Linked DNA regions of Homo sapiens: all the other regions are reported to be linked to region 3. The links are microRNA targets in miRTarBase. Many come from high-throughput screens and were not tested one by one. Region 3 holds a microRNA gene; each other region holds the end of a gene's coding sequence.

The links. Region 3 holds the annotated microRNA hsa-miR-19b-3p (UGUGCAAAUCCAUGCAAAACUGA, at 3,531-3,553, opposite strand). A microRNA usually pairs through its seed, bases 2 to 8, with sites in the 3' UTR of a target mRNA and lowers its output. Matches are read on the target gene's strand: a 7mer-m8 pairs with bases 2 to 8, a 7mer-A1 pairs with bases 2 to 7 and ends in A, and an 8mer does both.
Region 1: the mRNA of CD2AP is a reported target of hsa-miR-19b-3p. The part of its 3' UTR that is shown has no 7-base or 8-base seed match.
Region 2: the mRNA of TGOLN2 is a reported target of hsa-miR-19b-3p. Seed matches in the 3' UTR shown: 7mer-m8 at 841-847, 7mer-m8 at 2,139-2,145 and 7mer-A1 at 2,954-2,960.
Region 4: miRTarBase lists CD46 as a target of hsa-miR-19b-3p. Seed matches in the 3' UTR shown: 7mer-A1 at 1,995-2,001.

What each region holds. Positions count from the first base shown.
Region 1 is chr6:47,622,996-47,630,604 of GRCh38, reverse strand. It overlaps CD2AP (CD2 associated protein), which reads right to left. Exons shown (of 18, transcript NM_012120.3): 18 at 3,342-6,419. The coding sequence ends at 6,378. Among named protein-coding and RNA genes, the nearest start is that of ADGRF4, 72 kb to the left of the region's middle.
Region 2 is chr2:85,315,744-85,323,356 of GRCh38, reverse strand. TGOLN2 (trans-golgi network protein 2) reads left to right here. Exons shown (of 4, transcript NM_006464.4): 4 at 616-5,330. The coding sequence ends at 621. Among named protein-coding and RNA genes, the nearest start is that of TGOLN2, 8.4 kb to the left of the region's middle.
Region 3 is chr13:91,347,185-91,354,797 of GRCh38, reverse strand. MIR19B1 (microRNA 19b-1) reads right to left here and starts at 3,606; the gene lies at 3,520-3,606. MIR17HG (miR-17-92a-1 cluster host gene) reads right to left here and starts at 7,111. Exons shown (of 3, transcript NR_197388.1): 1 at 6,839-7,111; 2 at 5,028-5,100; 3 at 221-4,642. It overlaps MIR17 (microRNA 17), which reads right to left and starts at 4,193; the gene lies at 4,110-4,193. MIR18A (microRNA 18a) reads right to left here and starts at 4,047; the gene lies at 3,977-4,047. It also overlaps MIR19A, MIR20A and MIR92A1. RefSeq lists enhancers at 4,978-5,525, 5,526-6,073, 7,543-7,613 and silencers at 5,623-6,612, 6,663-7,442.
Region 4 is chr1:207,789,258-207,796,870 of GRCh38, reverse strand. It overlaps CD46 (CD46 molecule), which reads right to left. Exons shown (of 13, transcript NM_172351.3): 12 at 6,526-6,618; 13 at 1,367-3,352. The coding sequence ends at 6,567. Among named protein-coding and RNA genes, the nearest start is that of MIR29C, 8.9 kb to the left of the region's middle.

The DNA.
Region 1 (7,609 bases), not on the chromosome of region 3:
ATATAAACATTAGCTATGTTTGACGCGATGCCTACTTTTAAAGGTAAGTTTACTATAAAATGTAGGGTAAACTGACCATCTAAAGTCCAGTATATAAAATTTGTTAAATACATTTTAAGAGCCTAATGCAGTCCCTGGAAGAATGTCTGTTTTATAGCAATCGGCATGATAGTGGTTAGTCTTGAGGAGATATTATACTTGAATATTTGAGGAAGGAAGAAAAGGTAGGAGACGGTAAAGACAAGGGGTAGAGAGAATACCTCCCCTTTTGTCACTTATTCATCCACTAAACATTTACTGATTGTCTACTACATGCTAAAGACCATACTAGGTCATTTTAGGTCAGTGGTTCTCAAAGTGTGGTCCACAAGGTCAAAACAACTTTCATGATAATACGAAGATGCTAGTTGCTTTTCTCATTGTGTTGAGATTTGCACTGCTAGTGTAAACGCAGTGGTGACGGTGACTAGAACTGCTAGGCACGCATCAAGACAGTGGTACCATTTTGTTACTGTGTTCTTCACCACCATACCCAGTACAGGAAACCCCTTCCTTTTATCAAAGTGAACATTTTATTTTTCTCTTATAATTTCATATCATGCATTGAGATTGATAAATTTCCTGATATGAAATCTCTCCCTGTGAGATTTGGTTTATGATGATCAGGTTTAAAGTTATGCTGGATTCATAAAATAAATTGGGTGGCTTTCCATCTTTTTCTACAGTTTGAGTAGCTTAAAGACCAATTAAAACACAGCCATCATCTGGCCTTGCTGTCTTTCTCAGTTGTAGAGCCTTAAATACGTTTCAAATTCACTTACGGTGTGTTTAGTCAATTAAAAATTTCAACTTCTTCTTTGAGTCAGTATTCATTCTTTAAAGTTCCATAACTTAACAGATGTCTTGGTGTTACATATCATGCCATTTTTTTCCTCCTGGGACATAAAGGATTTTAATCAAGGTTTTCTTCTGGACAACTTTTTTTTTGTTATATAAAACACAGGTATCCATAAAGATACTTGTGTCTGATTACTCACGTTTCCATGGTGTCAGTTATTTGATGAATAGCACAGCAAGGAAGAAGAGCTATAAATTGTTAGCCAAAATATTCTCTCATTACATCTGTCTTCCCTAAGAGCATGTCTCCTTCTCCTTGGTTTTCAGACTTCCAATTATTAGGGCTTACAGTTAGTGAGGCTTCTCTTTCAGCTCCACATTCCCCAGCTATCCTTCTGTACAGGATTTGAGCCTACAATGATCAGATGAGCCTTTCAGAGAAATCTGCATCTGGCACAAAGTCTGGGAAAGTTTATATCAGATTTCAGGTTGCTCCCTCCAAAACATTTGGAAGGTATTTTTACTATTATAAATTGTAGCTTCCTTATTTCATCTGAAAAGCAATGTTTTTATCTTAAATCTGCTTTTTAATCTATTAATATCAAATCTTTTTCATTGTACTTACTGTTTTTAATGAGTCTCAAGGGAGGAAAAGACAGTAAAAATGTCATCACTCCGTCACATCGTTTACATTCTGTTCAGTTAATGTTTAGGAATATCTCTAAAAATCCACTCTACCATGAAAAGTTAACATGTGATTTTATTAAAGAATTGTTACTCATTGGGCATGGTGGCTAATGCCTGTAATCCAAGCACTCTGGGAGGCCGAGGGGAGCAGCGCGGATTGCTTTAACTCAGGAGTTCAAGACCAGCCCAGGCAACATGGTGAAACCCAGTATCAAAAACAAAACAAACAAAAAAAAATTAGGTGGGTGTGGTGGCATGCACCTGTAGTCCCAACTACTCAAGAGGCTGATGCAGGAGGATTGCTGGAGCCCAGGAGGCAGAGGTTGTAGTTAGCTGAGGTCGCACCACGGCACTCTAGCCAGGGTAATAGAGAAGGACCCTGACTGGAATAAAAAAAAAAAAAAGTTTCTCAATGCACTTAAAATGTAGTTTTACTTTCAATAACTTTATTCACACACTTTTAAAGGGAACTGAAATGTAGTCAGTAAGAAACACTTGGAACCTGATAGGAAATAATACCATCCAATAGTTGCAAAATAGCCACACCTTTCATGACAGAAAAAAACTATTGACTCTATACAAAAAATACTGATATCTATTTGTGAATTTATTTTCCTTACATGGAAGAGCAGATTCACAAAAATGGTGTCAGTGGTAAAATAAATGCAACAGGATTCAGAAAAAAAAATTTTAACACCCAGACCCAGTCTCTCTTGCATCTTGAGAATACAGCCTAATAAATCCAGGTGAGTTAAACTGCTACCTGCTTTTATTTCCTAGAACTGGGCTAAATTTGCAAATTGTATTTTCAGACAAAACCATCTGCACTCTTCAAACACAAATTCTATAGTCCAAAACTTTTACCATTATATGCCTCCAAAGTTTTTTGTCTAGTGCTTCTAAAAGCCAGTAAGAACTAGAAATTTTTTAAATAAGATTTTAAAAATCTTATGACACACTAATTTTCCACATTGCTTTATAGTGGTGTCCTATTCCTTCTGTTTCAAATCTTCCAGCACACTACTAGAATCTCTAAAGCTATATGTGATCTATGTTCAGCAAAAGTATGTGGACCTTAATGTTCTCCTGATTTCATCTTGTTTTCTGTTATTTATCAGGACTTTTTCGGTTGTGAGTTCAGAAACCCAACAAGCTTATGAGCAAGTCTGTGCTTATAGAACCAAGCAATAGACAGCTGAGACTCAGCAACAGCTACAATCAGTTTCAAAGTCCTTCCAGATTCTGTTTCCATCTATCTATGCTCTACTAAATTTTGTTTTTCAAATCAGCTTTTTCCAGATGACAGAAAAACAGAACTGTGGAGAGCTCCCATGCTGAGATTAGCTCTTTTTGTTTCCAATTTTAAAAATTTCATTCTTTGATTAACTCAGTAACTCAGTTTGAGCCAAGTACTCTCTCAAGGGATTTCCTGGGTGGGGTGATCAAGGAGGTAGAATCTGTAAGATGGTAGCAGCTCCCCTTTGAACAATATAATACAAATGAAAGGAGCATCTCCCCAAAGAAAAGGATACTATACCGTATTCAGGGGGAAAGGATACACAATGCCTCCTTTTTCTTAACCTTATCCATCTAATTTTTATCATATCCATCACTGTAAAATGCTTTTTAAAAAGGTAAAACAGCAGCCTCCATTTTTTTTTTAAAAAAAACCTACTCTATGCCAAGCACTCTACAAAGCCATTTAGATAAACTATTTCAAATTCTCCCCATAATCCTGTAAAGTAGAAATTACTGTCTCAGTTTCAGATGAAAAACCAGACTCAGAAAAGTTCAGTAAAAGTCATACGGGTCTAGAATTTTTAATGTTTTTGGTTTACTATTTATTCTTGTATTTGGAAATTGAAGTAATATAATTTTCATCATACTCTGAAATACACAAATGCTAAAGTTAACAAAAAATAACCAATAAAGACTGACACGACTGGCAATAAAATCCTTTAATTTTTCTTTTTGAGAGAGAAGCATGCTTTTAAATACAGCACCTGTAAACAAGTTAGTGAAGTATATACTATTTTGAGATTCCCCCTCTCAATTTTTTTTTTGGAATGTTAGGTTACAACATCAACTGCATTACGTAACAGTTATTGAAAGCAAGTCAGGGTAAAATTTTATAGCCAAAAATATTCATAGCAGCAACTTTTAAAATATGATTTTATTAAATCAAGTCATTGCACTTGGTCATTTTATTGCTACAGCAAAACAAGGCCTTTACATTATAATACTTCTCATTTCTGATTTAACTGATTGTCTCATTCTGCTCATACATTTCAAGTTTAAATGCAAGCATAAAATGTTTATCAACAAATCTAGAGAGCACTTGGATTTTTAATTTTTCTGTGATCACAGTAAGGAGCATAAAAAAGAGTATCTTCTGTTACACAAGGCCTGTTCTCTCTTTACATCTTCAGACTTAAATTCTGTAGAAGGTAACAGCTTTGTATTAAGACAGAAGCTTAGTGGTCACAAACAAAAAATAACACTGAAATACAATTCAGAAATTAATGATACTGTGTGTCTCAAAGAATACCTGAACTATACATTCACTAATAATTTGGCAATGAGATTCCATGCTGTTCAACTTTTGTCTTTTATACTCACACGTAGAAAAAAAATTCATGATTTACCCCAAGGTTATTATTAAATATCATTTTGTGATATGAACTTTAGTAATAGAAATTAATAACATTTCCCATACCAACAGAAAGTAAGTTGCTAGAATAAAGGAATCATTTTTCCCATCAGGCCTGGGTTTGTTTGGTTTTCTTTACTATTTTATCAAGGACAGAAAGGTAAAAGTATTTCAGTTACTTTTCTATTCTGACTGAGGAGGACACAAGCAAAAACTTTAAATACATTTCCATGCTCATAAGCATCTTGATTTCATGTACTATTGAGAAAATGACCAACAAAAACTTTAAGAACAGCCTGAAATCTGCTGGAAACTTCCCTCATCCCATTATTAGGATGACCAGGGATCACTTCAATAGATTTTCAGGTGAGAAAGCTGGAGGATAATTTCTAGGATTACAATATTTTTGTTTTACCTAAGGTTGGTCATTAAAAGAAAGTAAGATTTAATTTATTTAACAAGAAGAAAATAATTCATTTGACTAGTCATTTAAACCTATTCTATTTAACAGAAGAGGGAACAATTTTGTTCAGTAGTGACCTCATTAGAAGAGCCCATTTTGAAGAGTTCTAATGTATATTCTCAATATATAATTAGCATTCCCCCAAACCCCTAATGTAAGTTGTAAATTAAACATTATGTTGTTTACTGGCATTTCTATTTTCTACTTCAGTTCTCTTTATTTGAAACATGACAAAATTTCATTTACATAAGATTTCTATATTATAAGATTAAAATTTAAAGGAAAAATATTGGTTTGGTGGTTTAAAACTAAAAAAAATGGAAGCATGATCATTGGTACTCAAAAATCTGACACTCATTTGCGATATAATAAAGCATAAAACAATTTTTTGCAAATAAAAAATTTCAAATTTTAAAAATTTAAATAAACCCACTTGTGTTTTAGATGTTACCTACAGACAGAACATTTTAAAGCATTCAACTGTTCATAAGTAACTCTGAAGAAACAACTAATTCATCCATTCTGTGAAAATGTATTTTAAATATGTTCAACTATATTTGGTTTTAAATAAGCTGTAATGTTATATTTTATGACATACTAACATTCTTTATAAAGTTTGTACCTAAATAATAGTTCAAAATATCTCCATGAGTTAGTTTGGTCTATTAGGTAAATTATACATCGTAAAACCTGAGTATTTACAAGTTAACTTGTCAAAATAGGAAACCTCACACTGAAGTTCTGAAAAGCTTTGGGTTTTGTTTTCCTATTACCATTATTAAAAGTCAGAAGGAGAAACATGAAGAACTAAGTGACAAGATAATGAGAAATATTTGAGGCTGTAAAATAAGCAGAAAAGTACAGCAACAGGCTGGTGTTTACATATTTTATATGTGCTGTAGTTTCTAGGCACAAGTTAAGGGTTAAATTAACAGTTTTAGATTCTTCAGACCTAACAAATTTAAAATACAGTTCATATTTCCCCAAATGTTTAACAATCCAACATATTTTAACTAAGTTCCTTTTATGACTCCTATAGTGCAAGCAACATAAAATATTCTAAAAGTTGATGAAATTATTTTGATTATTCATTAGTTCTTACTATATGCATGGGTGAGTAATCTGGTTTATATAGCTAGGAAACTCCTATTTCATCACCCAAAATATAAACAGCATTGCAGACAAACAGGCACAACAGTGTAACCTTCGGTAAGAGGATAAAAGTAAAAATATATATATATATATACACACACACACACACACACACACACACACACACACACACACAGAGTTTATATCCCTTATGCATTATGGAAAAAGTAGTGACTATAGTTACTAAAAGGCTAATCTGTCCCTCTCAAATAGTATATCTTAACAGATTACTTGTAAATATATCACCATATTTATAGTATAGATCTCTTTAAAAATAATACAAGTTTCAATAAAAAAACTACTGTGCACATTCTTATTTATATTCAGTAGTATTTTCAAGCAAACAATTTTTTAAAAAGTGTTTGCAATCCCAGCACAGTTAAGAAATAAGGCCTCTTTTTCTTCATATTGGCAAAACAAAATATATATATAAATTCACCCTCACTCTACTTTTCTATAGATATTACACTTCATTTGCTCATATTTATCACAACAACAGAATTCACAATTTTTAAGTAACAAGTCAGCTGAAGTTCATAGCGTTGCTTCTGAATCCCTGGAACATTATGAACACCAGGTCCACACCACTCAAGAAGACAGGACAGCTTTTTTCAGCTTCTCTATTTCCATCTAAAACAAAAAACATAAATTGAGCAAACATAAAATATCCTTAGTTTAGTAGTTTATTTTACTCTATGTCATTAAGATGTGATCATACTTTCAAGCCTTCAGACTTTTTTTCCAGACCTAAAATCCAGTTTCCCATGCTATAATTTGGTTGAATAAAGTTTCAACAGTACAATGCAAGTTCCTAAATGGCAGTTACAATAAGAAAAAAGCAATTATAGCCCTTTCAGCCAGAACAAATGTTAAGTCATGTGAGCATTTAAAATTAAAGCTGTAAAAAAATCAGTCAGTCCTACAAAGAACAAAAGAATCCTTGAAACCAAATTAAGAAATGTACATGTATCTATAATTAAACAAAGGATACATAAACAACAGTAAAAAGAATAGAGACCTGTTTAGTTCCATGTTTTTCACTAATTATACTTAATTATAATTATAATTATTGTTAAATCACTTGACTTGGTTTCAATTTACTTATCTGTAACCAGTATATACTACATTAAATATCTTAAAGCCCAGGAATATATCTAAGATTCAGTCAAGGTGCTTGATATAGTTCCACCTTTAGGCAGAAGGAAATTCATAACTTAAGGAATTTATGAAGAAGGAGATCATTTCATTAAGTTTGCACAATAACTACACAGAGTTATTCAATACTGCCATATTCAAATGGCTAGGTTGAGGCTCAAAGACATTAAACAGGATGCCAATGTTCCACACTAACAAGTGACACAGGACTTGTCATGGTAAGATTTAGGGCTTTAAAGCCCATGGTTTTTATATTGATTTCTCTTCTCAATTCTATAACATTTTGATCATCTTTAACCTTTCCCTGCATGAGGAAATATATAGGCCTTGCCTTATCCTGATGGCATCACCTTCCTCAAGAGTGCACATAAACAATACATGCTTTGGCTAGCTTCGACAAACAGCACATTATTAAACGATTAGGACTTTGCCATAGTCAAAAAGTATAATTTTTATATGTTCACAATCTCCTAAAGGATTATAACTACTCAAGAACCGTTTATTAATTTCAGGATCTTCCTTGATATGATTCTGTAAATATTATGATGATTAGCTCAATGTTTTAGCAGCACTGGACTACAACAAGCCTGTCTTCAATTTGGATTGAGACGATAGCTTTCATTGTCAGCCCGATCTGTTATTAAAGTCTTTATTCCAAAGATACA
Region 2 (7,613 bases), not on the chromosome of region 3:
TGACCTCAAATGATCCACCCACCTCAGCCTCCCAGAGTGCTGGGATTACAGGCGTGAGCCACCACACATGGCTTATGATTTTTAAAAAAATACACATGTGGCTGGGCATAGTGGTTCACGCCTGTAATCCCAACAGTTTGGGAGGCAGATCACCTGAGGTCAGGAGTTCTAGATCAGTCTGGCCAACATGGTGAAATACCATCTCTACTAAAAATACAAAAATTAGCTGGGCATGGTAATCCCAGCTACTACTGAGGAAGCCGAGGTGGGAGAATCGCTTGAACTTCGGAGGCAGAGGTTGCAGTGAGCCAAGATCATGCCACTGCACTCCAGCCTGGGCAACAGAGCAAGACTCCGTCTCAAAAAAGAAGAAAACCACCACCAACAAAAAACACATGTAAATAATTCACAACAGTACAGAACAGTATGAAGCAGAAGCCAGGATTCCTCTCTCTCCATCAAGTGTATATCTTTCTAGTGTTAGGTTTCATTTCAAACTTTAAAAATCATTTTGTGTGCTATTTTAATTAATTGCTGTTTCTGTGGTGGTGGGTCAGTATGTCTTAATTCTGAATGTTTTCCCTGCACCTCCTAAAAGATCTTTTTTCCCCTAAGTCCTAACAGAATGGTATATTCCTCTGGAAAAAGATGAACGTCACCAATGGATTGTGCTGCTCTCGTTTCAGCTTTGATTTTTTTGTCCTTGAGAACCTTGTCCTCCCTGCTGATTTGTTTCTAAATCAAAAGAAATGAAGAAAAAAGTACTGTGACCTGAGAGACACCCTCCTCTAGAATTTAGTGGCGGGTCTGGGCTGGCAGAGGTAGGGGGCTGCTTTGGGCTTTGCACCTGCACTTTGGTGACATTGTTCTTCTGTGTTCCCTTTATTTATGCTGGTGGCTTCCATCCGTTCCTCCTCTGAGGGTGAGTGGAGGGGTATATGGAAACACGGCTATGACCAAAGGGAGATCCCAGCCTGGGCAGGCTGCGCTGCTGACCACCCTCCCTGGGGCCCGGGCTCTGTAGGAAAGTTGGTCCTTGACTGTGGCATTGCACTCTGCACTGTTTCTCTCTGCAGACCTAGGGGAAAACTGCAGGTGGAAGTGCTTTTCTACTAAGGCCTCTTACTTTGGGGGGGATGTGCCCTACAGAAGACATAGAAGATGGGGAAATGCCAATGGGCAAAGAGCTACTTTGAATACATAATTCTCTTCAAAGACTTCAGCAGCAAACCAAAACAGCAGGTTAAAAAAAAAGATGCTTTTTTGGGTGCAAGTCTAACCTGTCTAGCATGAGATCTTCTTGATTTTCTGATTATTTTATGTAGCTTGAGACAAAGTGAATCAACTTCCACTTAGTTGTACCGAGCATAAAACAGAACTTGGGCTTCCTGGCAGTGAGGCCACTGTCCCATCACAGATTTTTAAAATAAATATGATTTGAAGTAGTGTGATCTTTCACACAATCATACTCAGTAGGAACTTTTTGAAATAGGGCAAGTTTATGTTTCATGCGAGAAAACATGAAGGAGGGTTTTGGTTTTGGTCTGCAGTTTTTCCAAAGGGCTTTTATGAGATACATTTCCCACAAAGTCCATTTTGCCTTTGTTGCCTAAAACAGACAAAATAGACTTAGATTTATTAATAGAAACTATACTCTCTGCCAATTTTACCTCAGTGTATTTAATGGTCCTTTAATCTGATATAAGATGCCAAGGGTATTTGATAAAAATTCTTCTTCCATGCCATGTCAGGAGTTAATACAAATGAAGAAATTCCGTGGGTTCCCCTGGGATAAGTGAGGGTAGTGTCTTGGACAACACTATTGTTTGAAGGTTTATCTTTTCTAATCATGCTCTACCGCATTGTAGAGAGCCTAAAGAGAGTTGTTTCTGAGCTGATCTCAGGGAAATACAAATAACTTGGGAGATGAGGGAAATAAGATGAATTCTGTGCTGTCAAGGCAGTAAGTCTGAAGAAAGGACCATGCTTCTTATATTATCTTCCACCTTGCTTAAAACAGCCCATAGCTTTGAGTTGACATTTTCATTCTTGGCGGATAGCCTACTTTATGAAGGTAAGGAATGAACTCCTACCCTTCTTGGGTCATTCTCTGTACTGATGCGTTAGTCTTATAATACTTTGCACCAACCTGAGGAATCTTCTAGGCTTCTCTAGCATCCCCTAAGACTGTGGCTATTTCACGTCTCTCTCCCTGCCTGCCTTCCTTTTCCCTTCCTTTCCCCTCCTCATGTTTTCTGGTTGTGCCCATCTGTACCAGCTCCTTTCCATCCACCTTCGTATGCACCCAGATTTTTCTGTTCCCATCTGTCCTATTTGTTATTCATCCCGCTGCTCAACTTCTCCAGTATGTTGCTTCCCTTAAGTTGCCATTCATTCTCTTCATGACTTTTACTAACTCACTTCGGTCTCTGTCTGTCAACTAAACTTTTCTAAAGGTTACCAGTTATCCAATCACCAAATCCATGGCTTTTTCTCAAAGCTTAGTCTTGTCCTTGGCAGAACTGGACACTATTGACCATCCAAATGGAAATTCCCCTTTCTTGGTGTCTCTGACAAATGGTCCTTTGCCTTATCTTGTGCTGGTGGTGAAGAGGCCCTCAAAGCCAGGCCTCTCTATTCCTTTGACTGTCTCCTCAGCCATTAACCCATTCTTCATCCTCGGAGTGAGTGATTCCCAAGTCTTTGTCTTGGCTTAATCCCTAAAGAACCCAGTTCTGCTGGTATCGAATAGTTCAGCTTGGTTGTCATTGAAAGGAATTTCTCTCTTCTGTCCATCAGCCTGTCCCTCCCAACTGTCTAGGACAGTCTTCGGTCACCTAAATTCCTAACTGCAGACTTTTGCCCTTTTTCTCTCTCATCACCAAAGTCCCATCCATTTTTTTTTAATAAAAGATCCTCAGCTACAGTCTTTCCATTTTCCTTGCTTCTCTTATTGCACACCCCCAGCCCATTTTGCTTCTCTCTTGGATTTTGTTTTTTCAGATCCACATTTATTGGGTTTCCTGTCCAGCTTCTTGGAAAGGAGCTCACTCTTGGAAAGACTGATCTTTCCAAAATATTTTCCCTGGTCTGAAGCTTTGGTGTGAACTTCTCAAGGCTTAGAGAATCCAGTTACAGACCTTTTGGGGTTCAGGATGCTATAGATTGACACCCTCCTGCCTGTTTTTCTCTGCATCCCAACCTGGCCAAGGCCCCTCCTGTGGGGTGCCCATCTGTGCCTTTATTCCGGCTGTGCCCTCGACTTTCCAGCTTCCCATGTTTCTTTGGTTAGGTTTCTCTCCCTTCCTTCTTTCTCCTTCCCCAATCCGCCTGTTTCGTCAGGGCCCAGTTTGTTTCCTCATACACCTTCCTCACTACCCCACCCCACATGGTTGACTCTTTCCCTCAGCTCCACCAGCTCTTCATCATGCCACTCATTTCAGAACTTGAGCAAAACAGGGCAGTCAGGATCTGATGTCTTTCTGGTCTCCCTAAGAAAACTAAGCTCTTGAGGGACAGCCCTTGGCAATGCTTTCCTATCTGCTGATCATGGTGACCTTCCTTAGGACTTCCAGAGTTCAGTTCCTTCTGGCAGAGAGGTTTTCTTTCTCCATGCCATATGGATGTGACTCAAATGAGGGGTCCCACAGCTTTTCCTGGCTACCACTTGCTGTGACCTTATACATGTTGGGGTTTGCTCTTAAAGAGGAGAGCAGGAAGAAAGGTTGGTTTCAGAAACCAAGAGGGTCGGCAGTGGACGCGTACATTTTGTCACGGAGTCCACAGAGCTGAGCTTTTGAGCAGACTCTGAGAAGTATCATTGCTTGTGTTGAAAGAATACAACAGGATTTAAGTTTCTCTTTAGAAATTGCACTGAAGAAAGGCCGGGCGCGGTGGCTCCCCCTGTAATCCCAGCGCTTTGGGAGGCCGAGGCGGGGGGATCACGAGGTCAAGAGATCGAGACCATCCTGGCCAACATGGTGAAACCCCGTCTCTAATAAAAATACAAAAATTAGCCGGGCATGGTGACGTGCACCTGTAGTCCCAGCTACTAGATAGGCTGAGGCAGGAGAATTGCTTGAATCCGGGAGGCGGAGGTTGCAGTGAGCCGAGATCGTGCCACTGAACTCCAACCTGCCAATAGAGCGAGACTCCGTCTCAAAAAAAAAAAAAAAAAAGAAAGAAATAGCATTGAAGAAAATACCGCACATCAGAGGAAAGCTTATTTTCTGCATGGTGTCTTTTCAAAGATAGAATATTTGAAGCATGTTTTCTAGCGATTGTGTGGATGAGGGTGAGCTGGCTGAGGCATCGCTCAAGCTGGGGGGTGGTGTGTAAGAAGCACGTGGAGCCACAAGAGGCACCTCCTATAGTCAGCTAAGGGCTTCCCTTTCTGCGCCCAGCTTTTGGGTGAAGGGTGATTTCTATTAGACACATCTGTGCTTCAGTCATAGATGTTAATAGAGGAAGCAGTTTTCCTGCTGCAGATTCCTGAATAGAGTTGCTGAAAGAGTCTACTTCTGGACTCAGGGGAAGTTGAAGGCCAGTCTGTGTAGAAAGGCTGAGGCAACGGGGAAAGACCTGACAGCTAGTTACATACGCTCTGACATAGTACTCCCATGATGGCTTCCAGTGACACATGTGCTGATAGAATTCTAAACCTCTGGAATTTCCCTGCTGGCGACTTCTATGGCCGTTGACTGTACAGGGTAACCTGATGCCAGATGCTATGGGCGTGATGAGAACTAGAGCATTGCAGCATGGAGGAAACTGTGAGGCACCAGATCCTGTGCTTCTGCAGGCCATTTTCTGAAAACCCCTGTTAGGAAGGTTGGATTTGGCGTGACTTGCTTGAGCAAGAGTCCTGGGGAGAGATTTTGAGGTTTAATTTAACGGTATATCCAGAGCTAACAGTGACTCAACTCGTCTAGTTCTGCAAGTCAGATGTACACTTAGAGTCTCTCTGTGAAGGGTTTGGGTCTGAGCTGTATAGTATGTCAAACTGCCAGTAAGCCAGCCCCTCACCCTCTGATAGATATTCCTTTAATGCACCAGACTTCATGTTTGATAAATGATTAATGGTTGAAATTGTTTCTCTTCTTTTGTGTTTTCCCAGTTAATAGATGGTCACTGTTTCCACAATGTTTTATACTTTCAGCTTTTTGTAACTTAACTATAATTACTTAATTTTATTTTTTTAAAGCTTGTTGTGGTCTAATGAGAAGTATTTTTCAGTGCATAATGTTTTTCTGAGCTTCTGTAAATGCCATCCCAATGTGGTTTGGTTTTGTTGAACAGAAACCAAAATAAATTTCAAAATGTTAAAGCAATGGATTTAATACATTTATTTATTTATTTATTTTATTTTATTTTTGAGACAGAGTCTTGCTCTGTCACCAGGCTGGAGTGCAGTGGTATGATCTTGGCTCACTGCAACCTCCGCCTCCCAGGTTCAAGCGATTCTCCTGCCTCAGCCTCCCGAGTAGCTGGGACTACAGGTGCGTGCCACCACGCCCAGCTAATTTTTGCATTTTTAGTGGAGACGGGGTTTCACCATGTTGGCCAGGATGGTCTCAATCTCTTCTTCGTGATCCGCCCACTTTGGCCTCCCAAAGTGCTGGGATTACAGGTGTAAGCCACCACGCTCGGCCAATAAATTTATTAATATTATATTAAGATGAACTCCAATAAGACCTTTGGCATGTCAGTTTAACATAAGTGAAAGGTCCTTTTTATGCCTTTTGAGCCTTCCTTCACCTTCCATCCAACACACACATGTACCAGTAAATTGCAGATGCCATTTCTGGGCTTTGCACACTTTCTCTGGCTTTCCATGTTCTGCTCCTGACCAACTCTCTTGCCACCTGACTCCTCCCAGCCTGGCTGCCTGCTTTCAGTAGCTGGGCCATTGCTGGGAACACTCTGTTGCCTCCCTGTGCTGTCCTCTGCTGTGCCATTGTGTGGAATGCCCTGCAGCCTGCCTCAACACAATGAAGTAATCTTACCAGTCGATGCCCTGACTCCTGACGTCACCCTTCCCTGCCCTGTGTCACCTTTCCCTGCATATTTGGAGGATAAGGCTTGATTGAGGCTCGGGTACCGAGCTCCCTGAAGGTGCCTTGATGCTGGCACATCGAGAACCAGATGCCACCCCGATGATAAGGAAGACAGACCCGGGACTTCCATATGAATTGGGTATGATCGTCTGACATGCACCCTACTAACTGATGGATCCTGCTGTTACCCCAAAGCTCCAGAACCACACTGGCCAGACACAGGCATTTCCTGTCCCCTGAAGAGCCACTGAACCCAGCACAAAAGAGATCTAGAGCTCTCCAAACCTATGGAATGGCAACCAAAACCATGCCCAGGTTTTGAGTTAAGCCTCATTAGTCTCCCTTTTCCCTTGACAGTGTAGAACTGTGCAGCGTAGCACTAAGTGAATGAGAGCAGAAGCCTCAGGACAGAACTGAACCCACCAGCTTGAGCTGACAACACTGCCAGGGGTTCTGTCCACAGATGGAATATTCGCTTTGATCACTGAGTTAGGAGGCATGGGTGAGGGATGCAGAGCGCCGCTCGTCATGAGACATCAAGCTATCCAAGTCAATATCCTATTAGTAGGGATGGCATATTATAGAAGGTGGAAAGATCTCACCTGCCCCAGCTGGAAACAGTGATTCCATTGCCCCAGATTCGGAATTGTGATTTAAACTAGGCCTCTCTTCAGGCATCAGAACCAAATAAGAGTGGTTTATATGTGCAAGGAACTAATGCCCCAGCTATTGGGCAAATTCCTCTGACTCCTCCCTGATGGAACTAATTCTTCTGTGCCCAGATCCTAGAGACAAGATCCTTAAGGTCTGAGTACAAGTTCCACTTCAGGATGGCGCTGCTGCACAGCAGGGCACCTTGCAGGGCCCCTACCAGTCCACAGGTGAAGATACCCTGGCCTAGGAGGCAAGAGCAGAGGCCCCTGAGTGTGCACCCAGGCAGGCCCAGGGGAGGGTGGGGCCTTGGTGCTCTTCCCTCCACATGAGGGCCACCCAGAGCTGGCTCCAATCAGACAGGGGCCACAGCCTGCCCAGGCAGCCCTGCTCAGGGGATGGGAGGCTGCAGGGGACAGCAGGGCCTGAGGGCAGGAACAGAGGACGTTGGGCGACAGGGGCCCAGGGTCTCAGGTCCTGACAACATGGGGCAGTGAGTATACCTGTCAGAGGTTGGTGATGGGGCTCTGGGCCTTCAAGGCCATCACACGAGGGTGCAGGCGGCCCAGGTCATGGTCAGCCCTGTAGCAGACACCTCGGGGAGCAGCCAGAACTGGTTGGTGAGTGGGGATCCTGCAGTCACACTCTCCACCTGAGGGCAGAAAGGGTGGGGCAGGCATGTGAGATCCTGGCTCCCCTCCCTCTTCCACTCTTTCCCATTCACTGACTCCGGGGTTGGGTGCCCTGTCCTTCCCTGGGGCTCATGTCTTGGGGCCCAATTCCCCTGTCTCAAGGAAAGGGCAGAAATAGCACCATGAGGTCCGTCACCACCCCAAATACTTTACCCCCTACCTTCCCCTCCAGCTGTGGGAACAGTTTCAGGACCACTGACATAGAGGCTTCCAC
Region 3 (7,613 bases):
TAATTCAGAGTCCATTTACCACCTTTCCATTCTGCTTGAAAATGAACTTCTGATCTCATATGTAAAGTAAGAATACAAATACATATTTCACAGGTAATGAAGATTAAATAAGAAAATCCAGATAAACTTTGGTCCTTGTCTCCACTTCCCCAATTAATTAATAAGTAACCTTTAGACCATCTGTAGTGACAAAACAAAAACGCCATAAAAACTGCGATAATAACCTTGAAGTTTTTATTTCAATATTCTCGTTCTGGACAATTTCTTAACAGCTTTAAAATGCAGTATTTTATTTATTAACATTAAATGCGCTAGAACTCAAACAGCCAGACCAAACTGTAAATACAGAACTAGGCACATCTCAATGTTCTGTCTCTGTGTTTACATTACTGGATAAGAAAATTAAGCATTCTTCAACTTTTCTATGGGTCTTAAAATTCATGGAATATGTGCATTTTCCTAATGACCCTTTAAAACTAATACCACATATGAAATGTTATCAAGGCAGAAAACTACATTAATTTCGACTTTAATAAGATGTAACTCATACAACCACTAAGCTAAAGAATAATCTGAAGTCTCAAGTGGGCATGATGATCTTATTTCCATCAAACACTAAAAACTGGCTCTGTGCAGATTGAGCTCTCCTTACCTTTACTGCTCAGTTGAGAGGCTCTTAATTCTCTAAAGTTAGACAAACTATGCAAAACTGTCAATTAAACAGTGTATCATTAAATACATAATAAACTTTAATGTGACACTGAGTTGTTCTCCAGGAAGTTGCAGGCTGCATTTTGTCAGGAGTCAGTGTGTCTTCAAACTACAGGAGAAAACCCAAGTCTGGCTTGTAGTTAGACAGGTCTGCCTGTAAAATGAAGATCTCAAAAGTTTTCAGTAAAATCACCAACACTTTGCAAGCAGCTTTAAAAAGAATTCCTAAAATGTTAAGTGCTTTCTTTCCAAATATAGGCTAAAAATAGAAAGTTGTACATGCAAACGCCAAAAAAAAAAAAAAAAGTTGACCCATTTTTTCCCCTCCAAATAGTTAAGGCTATTTATTAAACCTAAAGCAACATGACCTCTTAAGTCTCAAGCAACTTCAAGGTTAAAGCATTTTAAGAACAAGGGTCAAAGTTGTTTTTTCTCAGGTCAGAGATGAGGCCATTATCAACTTGCTCACTCATCTGAATTTCAAAATGGCTAAATTAACAATGTGAATCTTTTTATACAATACTTACATGGCTTTTTGTTGGCATGTTAGCATGCCTAAGAAAATCTTAATAGAACCAAGAATGTAAAATTTGCCTCACATTCTAAAGCCAGAAACAAATCAAAAGCAATTCCTATTAAACCCTATAGAACCACAGATCACTACCAAACCCACAACAAAACATACACATTTATTAACTTGTTTATTAGATTTAAATCTCAGTTCAAGCCCAATTAAGTTCTGAACACAATGAATACTAGTTTCAGTCTCTAGGGAGAAAAGCCATTTAAGTCTTTGTTATTAAAACATATTTGACTTACATTTTAGAATATTTAAGAAATCATCCAGCAGGCTTCCTATCACACTGTTCCAGTTTTTAAAAAAATTGCTAGTGTATCTCCCCAAAAGCACACCATTTTGCAAACTACCAGACCATGCTGTATTATGAAACTTTTTTTTTTTTTTTTTTTTTTTTTTTGCGTTTAAGTCTTGGTCTTGCGCCCAGGCTGGAGTGCAGTGGCAGGATCTCAGCTCACTGAAACCTCCACCTCCCAGGTTCAGGTGATTCTCCTGCCTCAGCCTCCAGAGTAGCTGGGATTACAGGTGCACGCCACTGCACCCGGCTAATTTTTTATATTTTTAGTAGAGACAGCGTTTCACCATGTCGGCCAGGTTGGTCTCGAACTCCTGACCTCAGGTAATCCGTCTGCCTCAGCCTCCCCAAGTGCTAGGATTATAGGTGTGAGCCACCGTGTCCAGCCGGAACTTTTTAAGCATAGTTTGAAAGCCACGTTTGTCACTAAATAACCAAAAAGACACAATTATTAGGTCTCCTTCAATTCAAAAAGCTTAAGAACTCTGCTAATGTACAATTTGATTTCCATTTTATAAATCACTGTTCATTTCACATCCTGAAAATTTATGTTTTCATCAACTCCAGAATGATAGAATTCTTACCTTTCTATTCAGGAATCCAAGGCTAAGTTCCTTAAATTTCTTAAAGAACACATTAGAGGTGAAAACTTTTGTTAGACTTCAGACAATATTTTTAAAAGCTGATTTCTAGATTTATTGGGTGGTCTAACCTAGTGTTATGGAAGTTTATTTCTTATTACTAAGATAGCCTCTTTTACTCCAAAATACAATGACATTTCTCAAAACTTATCTTTCAAACATCAAGTTTGCCTGTACTTCAGCTTGGGCCCAATTTTACCACTTGGTCCTTTTAAATCTATTATTCAGGTATCCCACATTATTCTACACAAATACACATAGGCTAGAGACAAAAACACATGAAGAAAAGAGAGAAGGCAGAAATGCTGGGTAAAACACTAACTGCCACTTCTTAGTTTCCACTTCAGTGACTTTAAGTCAAATAAGCCTGGAATCAACTATCACTGTTGCCAAAGTCTGGCTTACGTAGGGAGTAGGGAACATAAATGTTAACTACAGACTTAGAAATAAATGAATATCTGAATCTCACCCCACCGCTGCACTCTTGGCATTTGGGAAGAGTGTACACATACATTTAACTGTTACTCTATTTAGCATTTGTTCTTTTTCTAACTCCCATTTTTTTAAGTTGCAGATGCTAAAAGCAGTCTGAGGACCTTGGTCATTTATAGCTTATAAATCACTGACAATCAGAAAGAAAAACTAGTATACAAGCATTTAACAGTTACACTTCAGTTACTCATGTATTGGTAAACTGGTACTTGCTTAATAGAAACAAATTGTACCCCAACCCTAAATTCCATGCTTAAAAAAACTCATCTTTACACATTGCTTTAAACAGAGCGGCATTCTCTCTAAATTTAAATACTTGAGTAATATATGAGCAACATAAATTAACTTTTAGATTAAGTAAAATATCCTGGAATAACACTAACTCCAAAGAAAGCAAAAAGATATACTCTAACTTTACAGATGATCATCAGGTATACAGTATGTTTAGTCATATCGCAATACTTAACAGCCAAATAAATCTAACAACAAAAAATATAGCCAGAATTTATACTGCCAAATCTGACACGCAACCCCAAAAGTGAAATGTTTTTGAATGAAAACAAGACAAGATGTATTTACACAAAAAGTTACACATTTTCTTTAATATTTCATGTATCTTGTACATTTAACAGTGGAAGTCGAAATCTTCAGTAATATTTAATTTTCAAAATCTTCTGGTCACAATCCCCACCAAACTCAACAGGCCGGGACAAGTGCAATACCATACAGAAACACAGCATTGCAACCGATCCCAACCTGTGTAGAAAGGGGTTTGAGTTTCCCTTACTTTTCTACAGACTTTTCACTACCACAGTCAGTTTTGCATGGATTTGCACAGCAGAATATCACACAGCTGGATGCAAACCTGCAAAACTAACCATAGAACAGTGTTCAGTAACAGGACAGTTTGATTGGGCGACAGGCCGAAGCTGGAGTTCTACAGCTAGCAGTACTTTAAGTGCTCATAATGCAGTAGATAACTAAACACTACCTGCACTATAAGCACTTTAGTGCTACAGAAGCTGTCACATCAGATAGACCAGGCAGATTCTACATCGACACAATAAAAGTACACAAAATTAGTAAAAATCATTCATTTGAAGGAAATAGCAGGCCACCATCAGTTTTGCATAGATTTGCACAACTACATTCTTCTTGTAGTGCAACTATGCAAAACTAACAGAGGACTGCAAACAAAAACTATTAAAACACCTATATACTTGCTTGGCTTGAATTATTGGATGAATACATAACTTCTTATGCCAGAAGGAGCACTTAGGGCAGTAGATGCTAATCTACTTCACTATCTGCACTAGATGCACCTTAGAACAAAAAGCACTCAACATCAGCAGGCCCTGCACTTTAAAGCCCAACTTGGCTTCCCGAGGCAGCTGTCACCATAATGCTACAAGTGCCTTCACTGCAGTAGATGCACATATCACTACCTGCACTGTAAGCACTTTGACATTATTCTGACTGGTCACAATCTTCAGTTTTACAAGGTGATGTTCTCTTTTTTCCTGCTAAATTTGAAATAGATAATTAGAATTAACACCTCAAACTCTAACAACTATAAACCATACAAATTCAGCATAATCCCTAATGGGGAAGAAAAAATTAGTTTAATTATCTCAAAGATATGAGGTCCATTTAGACACGTATTTATGCCTTAAGAATTCTTTACAGAAGGCAATCATAACCAACCATCCAACTAGCACTGGAAGTGGTGGCTCTTCCAATGGCTGGCCTCTCCCAAATGGATTGACACATAGAGAAAAAAAACAAAACAAAATGAGACTGCAAATAAATGAGAACTAATTTTGGAACATTTAAAGGCAATTTAGTCCATGTGTACCTTTTAGAGGAAATCTTCACATCCACGTGGCAAAACATTTTCCTCCTCTTCTGGCTTCCACTTAGCAAATACTTGTTGAAATGATTAACAAAATTACTGTTCAGACTACACTTCAAGTGTTATCAGTCAATTGTAGCAGAACGTAAATATCCTGTTTAAATCTATCATCTCAGGTTATATCTACTTTATCACCCAACTTAAAAGAGGGTCTAAAATTATATTTCGTAAACTGCATAAGCCAGTTTCCAAAAATGTACAGGAATATTTACACTGTAATTTTACTACCTTAAAATTAGCAAATCCGTACTTAATGAGTTAGTTTTTCAGAAAAGGTACATTGTCTAAAGAAAGAAACACCTACTTTTACTCTCTAAGAAACCAATCCTATTTATTCAACTTTAATAGCAAGAAAAATTTGTTTTTAAGAAAAGTTCAAGAAAATCAGAATACACTTACCCATTCCAGAAAACTTCCTTTTCAGCAAGTATTCTCAGAAAAGCTACTGGTGCAGTTAGGTCCACGTGTATGACTGGAATAGGGAAAAATAAGGAAAAAAAAGATAAAACATTATTTGCTCAAAATTACTACCACCGTCCAAATCTATATTTGCTATTTTCCAACCTCCTAACAGCAATTAATTCCATCCATTTGTGAGAGTAAGAGTCGAGCAATACTAGCAGGATTTAAAAGCCCAATAATTTACAGTTGAAAAATACGTAAGAGAATAAAGTTGAAAAATCCTTAGCTATCAGATACATGTCTAAATAAGCTCCTAAAATACTTGATTATGATCAGCAGCAATCACCGACTCCACTGTACAGCTCCAGTAAAAGGAAAAAAAAAAAGCAGCCCACAGACTATTCTTCACCACCCCTCCCCCAATCAAGACCTCGTGGCTGCAAGCCGGGATAAAGAGTTGTTTCTCCAACTGCTGTGGTCCTGATGGCATGCCGTTAATTTTCTCTTTTGGTGATATTGCAACGACGAGCCTGCCTTTTTCAGTTCCTTTTCCCTTTGCTGCAGTTTAGGAACAGAAGACCGGGCAGGAACACCCGAGACTGCAAAGTGCCCGCCACGCTCATGGAGCCCGGGCCGGCAGCACATGTCGCACAAGGGGGAGCGCGGCCCTGCGATTCTCCGCGTAGCCGCCAGGGGGCGGCGGGTCAGAGTCAGGCCCCGCCGGACGCGGCAACCCCCCCAACCCGTTTCCCGGCGGCAGCCGCGCGGCGACCGGCGGCGCCGAGGCCCGAGTGCGGCGGGGACGCGGGCGCGCCGCCCCTCCTTTGTGTCCCCCAGCCCCCCCGAGCCCGGCCCAGAGGGGCGGGGGCTCCGCGGCCGCGGTGCCCGTCGCACGCGGCCCGAGGCCTAAGCCGGGAACAATCGGCGGCGGCGCGCAGTCGCCGCCATGTCCCCCGCCCTCACCCCCGTGCAGCCCGCCCCGCAGGAACATGGCGGCGGGGACGCCGCTCCCGCCGAGCCGGGCTGGCCCTCCCGCGCCACACTCCCAGCAAGCGGCCGGGCGCAGGCGGCTCCACGCCGCGGCTGAGGCCGACTGCGGCCTCCTCCGAGGGCCACGGCGGGGAAGTTGCGGGCCCCGCCCCGAGGCTGCCCACGCGGGCTAACAAAGCCCACGCGGAGCGGGGGTGGCGCCCAGGCCGCGCCGATCTCGGCGCCCCTCCGCCCACCCTCGCGCGTACAAAGTTTGGGGAACCGCGGGCTCCCGCCCACGCCACGCCGCCCGCTGGCGCGCAGGTACCTCGTGGGCGCGCCCCCTCCCGGCCCGCGGCCTGCCCCATGTGCCGCCGCCGCCGCCGCTTTGTTCTGGAGGCGCTTTAACTCTCGCCCTCGGGAGAAACTTTCCTACCCAGAGACCCCACGCCCCGCGCGCGCCCCGGGCCCCGGAGAAGGCACGGGCCTCGCACGTCCTCTCCCCGAGGGGCCATTGTGTTCGCCGTCCGCCCACCCGCCTTCGGGTCGGCCCAGGCAGGGTCTGCGCGGGTCCCGGGCGCGGCCGCCACGCGCACGCCGCCCCCTCCCACCCTCCCGCCCCGGCCCTGCCCCCCTCCGCCGGCCCGCGGGCGAGCGAGGGGGCAGCCAGATGCGGCTGCCACACGCCGGGGCGGCCAACGGCCGAGACCCGCCCCGGCCACGCCGCCGCCGCCACGCTGCCCCGGGCCAGTCCGCCCCGGGCCGCTCCGCCCCGCCCGCCAGACCCGGGCCGCACACAACAGGTTTCCCTCCGTCGCCGGAGGGGCGGGCAGACTCACCAGGAGGAGTAGCCGCCACCATCTTCGGCTGGCCGGCCGCGGGCTCCTGCTCCCGCCTCCCCGCCCGCCTGCGCTTTACTACGACCGGAGGCCCCAGGCCGGGGGTGCGGCCGGCCGGCCCGCCCCGCGAGGAGAGCTTCGCGGAGGAGCGCGAGCCCCGGCGGCGCTGCGGTAGTCGTCCCCACCCCCTCGGCCTCGCCCGAGGGCGCGAAGTGGCGCGAAGGCGCAGGTCGGGCGGCGGCGGCGGCACCTCGAAGGACCATGTGGGTGAATGAAGGGCGGCGGCTCCCGCCTCAACGTAAATACGGACAAGCCCCACTCCCTCATTAGCATAAAAAACAAAGTACTTCCGACCTCCCCGCCCGCCCGCCAATCACCGCAGGCCCCGCCCACGGCGGCTCGTTCTTGGCGGCCGGGAGAGCGGGAGCCGGGAGCCGCTGGCGGCGCCGCGCAGCCTTCCCCGGGCCGCGCTCCCCCGTGGCCCGCCCACCGCCGCCAGCCTCGCGGAGCGCCTCGCCCGAACACCTCGCGCCACGCCTCCGGCACGCCCTCCGTTAACAAGCTCTGCGCGCGTGCAGACCCCCGCGCGCCGCACACCCTCCTGGAAGCGCACGCTTCCCGGGGCTTCCTGGGAGCCCTGCTCTCCCTGGGACTCGACGTGTACGCTGTGCGATCACAGTTTATTACTTTACCGGCCCTTGGTGGGTTTCCGAGGTAATTAGGGGCCTGCTCCAGGCCAACCGGAACCAGAGAAGTAAAATCCAGTGACTTTAAC
Region 4 (7,613 bases), not on the chromosome of region 3:
GTGCATGCCTGTAATCCCAGCTACTCAGGAGGCTGAGTCAGGAGAATCGCTTGAACCCAGAAGGTGGAAGCTGTGGTGAGCCGAGATAGTGCCATTGCACTCCAGCCTGGGCAACAAGATCGAAACTCCATCTCAAAATATGTGTGTGTGTGTGTGTGTGTGTGTGTGTGTGTGTGTATATATATATATATATATATACACACACACACATATATATATAATTTTCACCTAGTGTTTTATTAAACAGAATGCTTCTGTATTTTTATGTTTATTTGAGACAATGCTTCTGTATTTCTAAACAACAGCTAGCCTTGTTCAGTTAGCCAAACAACAAAACCTTAATTCAAGTCTTCAATGAAATTTTCTGATTTAATAGGCTGAATTAAGAAAGCCATAATTTTCTTCTATAAATATAAGCCTTTAACTTCTATCTTTACAAGTTTATATAGAAAAATTTACTGTGGGGCTTGAGATTTACTAATGCATGGGTTTTCAACCTTAGCTGCACTTTGGAATCATTTAGGACGCTTGGAAATCCCTACACCCAAACCACATCCCAGATCAATTACACTAGAAATCTCTAGGGGTGGGACCCAGGTGTCTGTAAATATCCCCCGGTGATTGCAATGTGCAGCCATGGTTGAGAAACACTGAAGCCTGCTCTGAGAAATTTAGCAATCCGACTTAATTCAAATCTGCAGAGAGAGCAACAATGATTTTTGCAGAAACAACCAAATCCTACTAGTTACATAAATTTTATACTTTGTTAGGACTTGGGTTTTTATTTAGCTCTACATATGCGATCATAGGATGCAGAAGATATATCTTCTACTGGACACGTATATATAGATGCTTAAATGTGGCTATCCCAAGGTTAGGTAATAATAAAGACTATAAGAGCTGGGCAGAAATCAGGCACAGTTTCATGAAGGGTAATATCTGAGCTGGGCCTTGGAAGATGCATAGGATCTCAACAGGACAGTAGGTGTTTCAAGCAACAATGAACTAGGAATACAGCAGAAAGCACAGGGGAAATGGTCAGGCTTGACTGAGAGTAGGTTATTTGAAGAAGTGCAATAGAAAATGCTTGGGGAAGAAAGTTGGGATTTAATTGTAAAAGGTCTTCAAGTATCAGGCTAAGAAATGTGGACTTCATCCAGTAGGTAATGTGATGTCACTGGATATCTGTGCAGTATCTATGTGATGGGTTGGGAGTGGAGAAGCCTGGGGATACTTAAGGGTCTGAGCTAGGAGGGACAGGAGGAATGGCTGTGGGAGTGGAATGGTTAGAAGATGGGCCCAATTAGAAACATACTTCAATTTGAGACAAAACCCACTAGAAATAAACACATCATCATGAAACATCTCCAAATGTACAATTTTATTTTAACAGATTTCAAGAGTCCATTTTTTAAAAAATGAGCAATAAAGAACCTCTATCAGTGAGACTTCTCATTTTATAGCAAATACATTTTTGCAGCTTAAATTTTCTTGAATTCATATACGCTTCTGTCATTTAAACAAACTTCCAGAGAAAACTGGTCTCTATATATTTAAGTAACAAATTTGACAAAATACATATTTATACATATATAGATCTCTAATATAAATATTAAATTTGAAAAAATCAAATGTGAAGCAGAAACTGCTATACAAGTATATTGTATAATATTTATTTTATACATTAAAGTATTTGGTTGAATATACTTCAATTAGGTTTCTAAAAAACACCATTATCTGCTTCTTAGTAATTGCGACATTCTTGAAAAGCATGTGAAACGGGTATAAACTTCAACTCTGTGCTTAATTCAGAATTCCTGTTTGTTCTCCTCAAACTTTTATCTTCCTAAAGCATCTTGCCAGAGACTACAAAGGAAAGGAACATTTACAGAGCACTATAAACATGTCTTTGGACAGTAAAACAGTATTTATTCTTCTACACTCTTGATTTTCCAATCATATCTTCCTCAAGGCAATGTTTCTTTGGCCCAATTTGTGCAACTAAACATAAAATTTCAAAACACAACTTTTAACAGTGTGATATGAAATGCAGTGGCAGTCCCTGCTTTTCGCCTGCTGGCTTCTTTGAAAGAAACTGCTTGGCTAAGGGACTCAGTAGAGGGCTGAGATCTGCCTGAGTATAAAGTGCTACCTGAGCTATATTTACTTCTTCCATCCCTTGGTACAATCAACAGCAAATAGACAAAATGAAGTTACCTTCCTGAGATACATGGCTTACTTTGTACTCTGCCTTTTAGGAGATGAGGTAAGACATATACATAGATGGCTTTTACTAGCCAAGGCAATGTAAATGGACTAAGATTCTCATGTGACTTGAGGTTATCTGATGAATTTATTCTCTTCAAAACCACCTACTTTTAGAGGGCATGTTTAACCCCTCTCTTTATTTAAGGAGGGAGAGAAAAACACATGTAACCAGAATTCAGAGTGGGTTACTCAACCTAAGAGAACATACGGAGTTCTCTTTGGGAAAACAACAAGACTACAGTGTTCACTTCGCACCATGAAGTGGCACTCCTGTTATGGCTGTCAGAGTCCTCTCACTTCTTATGAAAGGATGCATCTGATTCTGAAATTACTGATATATTCGATCAGTTAGGGATGTTTTAAAAAGTGAAAACAAATGCCACACATACACTTTCTAGCTTTCTGAAATCACCGAACACATTACAAAAAATAGAGAATTTACCCTATTAACTTTTAGAGAATTTTCCAATAATATTCTTGGTTAAAGAAGCCAAGTTTGTGCATATTCCCAATTTTCAGTGTTCTTGTTTTTATGCACAAGAGCCAAAGTAGTATACACATATTTTTAAGGGCTTTTTACAATGAACGATATATAAAATACATTCTATAGTTGGTGAAAGAATAATCTTAAGAGTTGGCATTAATCTTTGAACAAAAAAGATTTCAAGCCACTTTCTTTACAAAGAAAATATAATTTCATTGTGAACTATATTTCTCTAATTTTGCCAATTTTATAAAATACAGCATATCCCTGCTTTAATACAACCAGGCATGCTGTGCTGACTGGTCCAATAAATCTAAGTGTTATTTAAGGGAAAGCAGGCAATCTGTTCATACCCAAATTCATACAAGTTTCAAAGAAGCATCAAAGGATGCTACCTACATTCAAGCCACATTGCAATATTAGCTAAGCCACAGTTGCACTCATGAGAGTGAAACTACAGAATAACAACTATTGAAGATTTTAATAGAGTCAAAAGATGAACTGGCAAACCAGGTTGTGGAATCTATTCAGCCTCTCTGCTCTGCTGGAGTGGTTGATTTAGTCTGGTAAGTGGCATATTCAGCTCCACCATCTGCTTTCCTGCAAACCAAGGTATAAAGATCATGTCAAAGATAAATATAATTAAGTACAGAAATTAAATTCCAGAAGCCTATTCAGAAAATGAACAATTAAAAAAATATAGTAATGAGCCACCAACCTGGGAAATAAATTATTCTTTTAAAATAATTTCAAATGTTCAACTGGTCTCACTGTAAAAAAAACCTTCCTTTATCCCTGTCTTATATTTTTGATCCCCTCCAAAACAAGAAATAGAGCAGTAGCACACAAAGTACTTAGTAACTATGTCCTCATTTTGATGTAGGGCCAATGGGAAAGACTGGAGACAAACGCATGCTTTCCTGATCCCTCCATTTTAAAGCTGTAGCTCTGGCACAGAACCTTTAAAAAGATAGTGGTTCTAACTGTTCAAGTATGTGATGCCTCATCTACCCCTCACTGTCAAGAAAATCATGTATTCCACTAAGAGTCTCCTAAATAACTAAAGTTTACGTCACACTTTTAGTATAACAATAGACATCTTTATAAAACCTATTATTCTAGTCTAGTGCTGGCCAAAGACAGATGATGCCAGTCATACATGTAATTTAAAATTTTCCAGAAGCCACTTTTAAAAACATAAAAAGGCAAAAATAATTTTATTTTCTTTAACCGAGTATAACCAAAATATTGAGATGTATTTTACATTTTTTTGGCTTAGTCTTTGAAATCCAGTGTGTGTTTGACACTTGCAGCATACCTGACATTGGACTAGCCACTTTGGAAGTCCTTAGCAGTCACGCATGGCTATTGAACTGGACAGCACAGCTCTGGGCCCTCCCTGCCTTAGTAAATTGACTTTAATAGACAAACGAAAACCAAATTCGGACCAGTCATTATTTACTAGTATGTGTGCCACAGCAAACACATTGCCTTTCCAATGTCACAGCTAAGCATGTTAATTCTGGATACTTTAATAACCCATTTATGCCTAGTGTTCCATTACTGGAACGCTAAGCATGTGGAATTTATCTCCTACTGCTCAAGGTCATCGCCAGGGTCTGACTGCAAAAATTCAAAAAATTGCAACCTCAGGCGTAAACGGGTTGGTTCTTCTTTGCCGGGGAGGCCATCATTATGGTTCTCTACTGCGTCATTACTATACTTATAATATTGCAGTTCCCTAAGGACTGTTGTGATGACAGACTTAATGGTTTGGCCTGTCACTGAATTCTCCAAGACCACTATATTTTTCTTTTCTTTTCTTTATTTTTTTTCCTTTGAGACAGAGTCTTGCTCTGTCACCCAGGCTGGAGTGCAGTGTGGTGTGATCTTGGCTCACTTGCAACCTCCTCCTCCCAGGTTCAAGCAATTCTTGTGCCTCAGCCTCCTGAGTAGCTAGGATTACAGGTGTGCACCACCATGCCCAGCTAATGTTTGTATTTTTAGTAGAAACAGGGTTTCACCATTTTGGCCAACCTGGTCTCAAACCTTAAGTGATCCGCCCGCCTCGGCCTCCCAAAGTGCTGGGATTATAGGTGTGAGCCACCAGGACTGGCCACCACTATATTTTTCTAAGTAAATATTTTTTTCCCATAGTAGTAGAATCTCTTTCTTTAAATAAAGTTTTAAATAAAAATCCAATCTATGCCAAAGATAAAAGGCATTAACATAAATTTAAAGAAACATTTATTGGATATAACAATGAAGCTATTTTGAAGATGGCAAAATATTAACTACAGCATTCATTAAATTATCTTCAAATGTTTACAGATACCCTGAAGCTCAGAGAGAGTCTAAAAACTATTTTCCTAGTTGGCTTTAGTCTCAAAAGTGTCCTAAGAGACTAAGAAGATATAGTAGGCTTCCCTTATCCACGGTTTCACTTTGCACGGTTTCAGTTACCCATAGTCAAATACGGTCAAAAATATTAAATGGAAAATTACAGAACTACGTTTTAGATTGTGTGCCATTCTGAGTATCATGATGAAATCTCACACTGTCCCACTCCATCCCTCCCGGGATATAAATCATCCCTTCGTCCAGCATACCCATGCTGTGGACACTATGTGCCTGTTACTCAATAGCTGTCTTGGTTATCAGATTGACTGTCACGGTATCACAGTACCTGTGGTTAGGTAACCCTTATTTTACTTAGTGGCCTCAGAGCACAAGAGTAGTGATGCTGGCATATTTTTATAATTGATATTATTAGTTATTAGTTATTGCTGTTAATCTCCTACTGTGCCTAATTTATAAATTGAATGATCATAGGTATACATGCTTAAGAGAAAACAGTATATATAAGGTTTAGTACTCTCCCAGGTTTCAGGCAACCACTAGAGGTTTTGGAATGTATCCCCCGTGGATAAGAAGGAACTACTGTATATAGGACTGGGTAGGCCCAGACCGCCAATTCTGGTTGGTATGTTTTGTCTTTCCCTTTCCTCCTGTAACCAAAGACATCACTTTGCTTTTACTAAGAAATTGTCCTTCCAGCTGGCCTTTGTAGATCCTGCTCCCAAACTTTTAATTATAACCTAGGTTAGGGCCTCACATTATAAGAGGTGGGATATGTATCTCCATCTCTTCCCAGCTCTGCGGACACACATTCTAGCACAAACAGAGGAATAATTCCAGTTCAGTTCAAAGACAGAAGGTGGACAGGGTCCAAGGGTTTAAGGCAATGCAATCCATTACTTTTCAAAATCTGAGGACTTTTTTGTTTTCCTTTGATATGCTAAAAATATCCCAGCCCAGGGAAACTGATAAAATGTCTTTACAGAGTTATTTATACGTTGGAATTGAATAAATTTACAAAACTAAGTAAAATATATTTTGGTTTCTATAAAAGGGCATTTTTCCTCCTTGCACTTAAAATGAGTTGATTCTGTGGTTATTTCCCAGTTGGCTCACAAATTCTTACTTTTGGATTCACAGCTGTTTTACAAGGTAGAAGTGAGATCGTCTGATAAAAGGACTAGGGGAACATAACTCTATTTAAAGCCTACGTCAAAGCCTGTCAGTACACATTATGTTTTCAAAGGGAATGGTATAAGAACACATCAATAATTTAGCAAAGGGAACAGGAATGTAAATTTCCTCTTTGATATTTACTGCCAATATCTCTTTGCTCAGGTTATTGATATCTATATATCCACTGAATATTTTTCAAAAGAAAGGACATCTGAAAATAAACAACAGAAAACAGATACCTTTTAATGATAAAAGCAAACCTTTCTCTCATCTCTCCTTCTCAGAGAGAAGTAAATTTTACTTCTCTGTGGGTCTCATCAGTTAGGTATGTGCTGAACAGAGGAAGAGAAAACGGCTGAATAAAATAGTGACTTCAAACCAAAAAGAAACGAGTAGCATAACAAGTGGGATAAAATCCAGTGTAAGAGAGTAGCAGGAAAGCTGAGAATTAGGTTCATAACTTAAGACTTTCTCATTCTCACTGAAGGACTGGAAACATGAATTTTGTGCTAGAAGCTACTTGAACTTTGAAGTCATATAGATCATCCAGCAGATAAACAGACTGGAAATTCCTGTTTAATATGTTTATCTTTGAAGCCATTTTGCATGAAGTGATTCATGTCAAAATGTTTTCAAGGAATAACAGATTGTTGGGGAGAAATGGTACCGGTCTCTAGCACTCTTGATTTTTTTTTTTTTTTTTTTTTTTTTTTTCAAGACACAGCATCTCACTATGTTGCCCAGGCTGATCTCAAACTCCTGAGCTCAAGCCATCGGCCTGCCTCGGCCTCACAAAGTTGCTGGGATTACAGGCGTGAGCCACCAAACCCGGCCTAACACCCTCAATTTTGAGGGAATACATTGAGTATGTATCAAATCCATGTAATATTATCTAGAAATCAACTTTATGACATCATGTATTTTCAGATGTCTCTGGACTTTTACATTAAGAAGTGTCTTCCTGTGGCACATCTGTTTTCAACCTGAGGAGACATCGTTGCAAAACTTTGTATTACATGGCGTCTCATATTTCTGAGATGGATCTAATTTTGTAAGGATGCTTTCTAAACTAATTACAAAACATTTTTGTAGTTGCTCAAAAATTTTTGAAGGGTTAAATGCTCAAGAATTTAAGGGCCAACTAGAAAAACATTTAAGTTAATTTGATCCTTTTTTTGCCCCATGTCACTATATGCCCCAATTACCTGAACTGACCACTATTTTTAATAAAGTAATTGGGTCAGTCAATATTAATGTAACATTAAAAGTCAGTTTAGGTTATACAAAATAATAAATACCATTAATGGAAAAAAGGAAAAACTATTTG